Linked DNA regions of Homo sapiens: region 1 is linked to region 2. A link means that fine-mapping ties the variant in region 2 to the expression of a gene that starts in the linked region. Tissue or cell type: whole blood. Region 2 holds a variant in brackets; the other region holds the start of a gene. All regions are shown on one strand. Distances are between the middles of the regions.

The links. PIP is the estimated chance that this variant, and not a neighbour inherited with it, causes the effect.
Region 1: it holds the start of ANXA3, and the variant in region 2 is fine-mapped to the expression of ANXA3 in whole blood (INTERVAL, PIP 0.97).

Annotation. Positions count from the first base shown.
Region 1 is chr4:78,550,337-78,553,004 of GRCh38, reverse strand. ANXA3 (annexin A3) reads right to left here and starts at 1,235. Exons shown (of 13, transcript NM_005139.3): 1 at 1,146-1,235. RefSeq lists enhancers at 1-815, 119-870.
Region 2 is chr4:78,598,852-78,601,705 of GRCh38, reverse strand. It overlaps ANXA3 (annexin A3), which reads right to left. Exons shown (of 13, transcript NM_005139.3): 11 at 138-196. Among named protein-coding and RNA genes, the nearest start is that of LINC01094, 46 kb to the left of the region's middle. The variant C/A (reference allele first, on the strand shown) is at 1,660.

The DNA.
Region 1 (2,668 bases), 49 kb after region 2:
CGAAGGCCAAATGACTTAAACAGAATTTCAATATATCCTTTCCTGAAAGGGATTACATCATTTCCTTTTACTTCCTCCTCTACGGTTATTTCTAAACAGGTTTCTCTACACAACCACAGAGTTCTGGGAACAAGATTCTGGTTTTCTTTACATTTAAAAATTCCCTTTCTGGTCAGTCTGAAGTTTTCCGTCTTCGTGAAAACCAAAGGTGGTATCTTCATGGAGTAACGTTTTAATTAGTTACATTTTAAAAAATGATGTTGGTGAACATAGTAAATGTATCTTTCCCGGAGGGCAGGGTCTTGCTGTCAGTGCTGAACACAAATCCTTGGAAAGAATTCGGCCTGGGCTATGCAATTTCGTATCAGTAGCCAGAGGGGCCTCCAGCGACCCAGAACCTCCCAGCACCTGCATACTTTCCTATATATGGTCATCTGCAATCAAGTATCCAAATCTTCCACCTGGTGACTCAAATACCAAGGGAATGATTCATATCTAGTCAATAGGATTCTGTTGCAAAGAAAACGGTTAGTCTTTTCAGGAAAAAGCAAACTTCTTGAACTTCCAACCCTCAATATGCAAATCCACTGTTTTCTACCTTCTAAAAAAAATAAGTAAAATAAAATAAATTGCCTATGTGAGGGGGAGAAGATGCTCACAGGATGGGTGCGATTCCAAGTCCACAGAGCAGACCTCTGAGCCAGCCCCGTCTGCCATGCCGGGGACCCGAGGAACCTTCCGACTCCCAGCTTTTTTCTGTCCCCTAGACCTTTAGGACTGGGGAGGCCGAGATGGCTAAGTGGATCCCTTACGCTGCTAGCTGTAATAAGCGAAGCTTTCAGGGAGCGAGGACAGCTGAGTATCAGCTTGGGCCCCACCAAGACCTGGGTGACCCACCCATGGCACGGCACTTTCCCCCCCGTGGGCCCAGTCTCCTCGACTCTGAAATGCAGGACTGAGGTCCCTCCAGCTCCCCACCCACGCAGCTGGGTTGGGGCCGGGCGCGGGCGCCAGCCGCCAGCCCTGCCCAGGGTCGAGCTGCACTCGCGGGGGAACTGGGCGAGGCGCCGCGACCTCCCCAAGCCACCCGTCAGCAGGCGGCTGTGGGCGAGGCTCGCGGGGACGCGCCGGGAGGCTGAACTTACCCAAAGCGCGGTGGGGGAAACTGGTGTGCGAGTAAACTGCGAACAAACTGCGAGCGAAGGTGTCAGCCGCGGGCGCAGGTGCTCCGCGCTGGCTCCGGGTCCGGATCGCGACCGCACCCCTTCCTCCTGCCCCTCCTCCGGCCTCTCGACTCCACCTGATTGCGGCCCCAGGCCCCGGGAAAGGGAAGCCGCGCCCTGCTGCCGCCGGGCTCTATCCCTGTACACAGGCGCCCCAGCTCTGCTCCCTCACCGGTCTCTAAGCTTCCCCACCCTTTTCTCCCTACGCCCTCATTTCGCTCTCGGTTTCCACTACACCTTTACTTTCTCAAATGTACTGCAATGCTTATTTTGTTCTAGGCAGTGTGGATTCGGAGATTAGACTGTCCCTATACCTAAGGAACTCACTGCGTGGCATAGGTGGCGGACACCTAACATTAATAACATTGATCTGGCATTTACTTTGTACCAGGCACTGTTCTAACTTCTTTAAGAATATGCGCGGATTTATTAGGTTGGTGCAAAAGTAATTGCGGTTTTTGCCATTAAAATGGCTCCGACAACAACTCTATGAGGTAGATACTATTATCCCCATTTTATAGATGAGGAAATTGAGATACAGAGACGTTGGGTAACTTCAGCCAATTTACACAGAAGGTAAATGCCAGAGCTAGTGTTTGGAACCCAACTATTTCAGTAATTCCTCTACTAAACGTGTTGACCCTCTGGTATGAGGATTCCAACCAAAGGCTCAGGGAGACGGTAACCTGGAAGGGCATTCTAGGCATTTGGAAGAGCAAAACAAATCATCGAGGCTAAAAGGTTAAAGCCCTACTCGTATGAGGGAATTATGAGCAGTTGTGTGCTGAAGGATGTAGAAAAAGTTACCATGTATTGAGTATCAGGCATTGAAGTGCTTGAATACCTTACCTCTTTTATCTTCAAGGGAACTCTAGGAGGTGCTATTTTTATCACAATTTGCAGAAGAGAAAACTGAGGCTTAGAAAAGTGAAGTGATTTATCCGAGACCACGTAAGTAAAAAGTATTGCTTGCACTCAGTCATCACTGGGCCCCTTATGTATTCACCCGAAGGATTTGAAAACTTACCTCCACAAACACCTGCACATGGATGTTTATAGTAGCTTTACTCCTAAGTATCAAAAGTCGGAAGCAACCAAGATGTAATTCGTAGGTGAATGGATAAATAAACTGTGATACATCTATACAATAGAATTTTATTCAGCACTGAAAAGAAATTAGCTATCAAGCTATAAAAACACATGGAAGAAACTTAAATGCATATTATTAAGAGAAAGAAGCCCATTTGAAAATGCTACACACTATGATTCCAACTATATGACATTCCAGAAAAGGCAACACTACGGAGACAGTAAAAAAAATCACTGGTTTCTAGGAGTTGAGAGGAGGTAGGGTGAACAGGTGGAGCACAGAGGATTTTTAGAGGATAAGCATGGCTGGAGCTGCTTGAGTGTGAGTTGAAGAGATTACAGTCTTGGTCCTTAAG
Region 2 (2,854 bases):
TTGCTGTAATATAATTTATCTTAAAATGTTTAAATTACATTAAAATAACTAATTTTTAAATATTTGTTCTACTATTTGCATACTTTCCCAAGGGAATTAAGGGACGCTAAGAATGCACATGAACTTTCCAGACCAACCTTCAAGGCTCGATGCAGTCTTTCGGCTAAAAAGGCCGGCGTGTTCCTCACACAATTAACTGTAACAAAAAGCAAATAATGTTCAGCTTCACGGAATAGAAATTGGGTTAATCTATAGTAAGTAATATGTTTTTTAAAAAGATTCTTTGGACTGTCATACCACTCTATCCCCTCCCCACAACTGGCTTTTACTTGGAATGAAAGAAAGGCTGCTTACCCTGATTTTCATAGCCTTTTAATACCATATTTGCACAGAACTTTAGCACAGTAATTATCTCCAGCCATGGGGAAAATAAAATTACCTGCCAAAGAAACTCCCACAGCGACTGACTCATCTCTGGATCCCAGACACCCCGAACACCTACGCTTTCCCTGATAACTCCCTAGGGTGCGACACTGCTCAGCTACTAGCATCTCGGGCTACTGATGAACAACCTGGGCCTGACAACTGCAGCGATGTTGCTCCAAATAACTCATTAGGCACGCAGGGGCACTGGAGTTCCATTTAAAAGCAATTTTTCCCATGGAAAGAATTTTCTTTTAAATGACTGGATTAGAATTTATAGGCTGGTTAGAGTGACTCCATTAGAACAAGTATCTGTCATCTAAATTCAGTTGCCTTAAAAAAAAAATACAATCCTTCAATTCTTTATTTTGAAATAACAAGTAAAGCAGAAATAAAACAAGAAAAAGGAAACTGACAAAAACGCAAGAGTAAATTATCTTTTAAATAAAAAGAAAATAGGAATAGAAAAGTCTGTAGGGAAGAAACCTATTTACAGCAACACAATTATTTTTATAATCTTAAATCTGATCTCTAGGTAGGAATCCAACCAAAAGTGAATGGATTTTATAATGAATTTTGGAGCTCAGAACAAGAATAAGTGACTTTCTCATCGTGGCTTATAGACTGTCTTAAGGAAAGCTAAAAGACTTTTGGCTTTTTGAGTGATTTAAGGGAAATAGAAGGAGAAATGTATTAGAAACCCAAACACAGCATTTAGAATCAAACTGTTACATGAAGTTCTCTGACAAGAAACTAACCATTTAAACTAGTAAAACTCACATTAAGTAAGCCATAATAGCTTGATAAAAAATAATGATGCCCACTTTCATCCTATTAAGCTTTCCAGTCACCTCCCTGCCAACTAGATTTGTACAATCCCTTCTTTTCATGATCCTTTCTTCCCTTTAGCTTGCCTTCTGCTTTATATTCTTACCTACTAGATTTGTTCTTCATATCTGAAAGTTTTGGAAGGTGGCAGTATGTTTCAGTGGGAAGGAGGCTTTATCACCCAGCACCATAGGCAGGGAAGCTTGGGAGTCCGTTAGAGTTAATTACCATGACCAAGAATTCATAATTGCCCATTCCCTACCCTCTTCATTGTCTTGACCACACTTCCATCAGGCCTCTCTCCTCCCACAGGTTCCTGAACTCTGGCTTGTCCCCAGTCCTGGGCAAGCCCTAAAATGCAGAACATGCCTCTGTTGCAGCTTATCTTGAGAGTCCAGCTGTCCACTG[C/A]CAGACGTGTTTCCTGTCAATCCCCAGTGATCATGCCCTTGTGCTTGCCCAACATTAAAAGTTGCTGCTAAGACTTTTCTGTTGGATTTTGAAACTTTTGCACATTTTTCCCCATCTTTTAGAGATGGGATCTCACTTTTGTCACTCAGGCTCTGGTGTAGTGGCACCAACATAGCTCACTGGAGCCTCGACCTCCTGGGTTCAAGCACTCCTCCCACCTTAGCCCCTTGAGTAGCTGGGACTACAGGCGTCCACCAACCTACCCAGCTAATTTTTTATTTTTTTGTAGAATCTTTAATATATAGATTAACAATATAAAATGGAAAAAAAATTAACCAGTTCTATCATTGCCATTGGAACAGTCTCAGAATGCTGCTCTCACTATGTTGCCCAGGCTGGTCTTGAACTCCTGGCCTAAAGGGATCCTCCTGCCTCAGCCTCTCAAAGTGATGGGATTATGTGCATGAGCCACCACACCCAGCCCAGTCTTTCAGGTTTCTGAAATCAACATGTTCTCTCTATTGAAATAGTTCTACTGAATAAAGCCTCTCCTTACTTAAGTCTGGATTTGTTCTTATTTGGCAAGTAGTATGCTCCTATTACACGATTCTAAGATGACACAGCTCAGATCGTTTTTCATGTCAAAAACTATGTGTTGACCATTGTATTGGATTCCTTGTGTATGAAATATGCAGAGTAGGCAAATCTATAGAGACAGAAAGTAGATTAATGATTATAGGAGCCAGGGGGTGGGGAGGATTGGAAAGTGACTGTCAATAGTTACAGGGTTTCTTATGCGGCTGATTAAAACGTCCTAAACTTAGATTGTGGTGATGGTTGCAAAACCTTGTGACTACATTAAAAAGCATTGAATTGCACACTTTGAGTGGGTGAACTTTATGGTATGTAAGTTATATCTCAATAAAAAATTTTATAAACTGGTTTATTCCAATGGTAGACTGAAACAAAATGAAAGTGTAACATATTTTGAACTTCAATTGAATTATAAGGTCTTTTTTTACATGATAAAATAATGTGCATTATAGCCCAAATGTAATACATTATTCAATGATATATTTCCAAGAATGCTCCTTAGCTCAGTGAATGAGAGTTTGTACATCTCAACAAAGTTTTTCAAACATTACGGCTTAGCAAGAACACCAAATGAAAAACAGCAAGCAGAATTAATATAAAG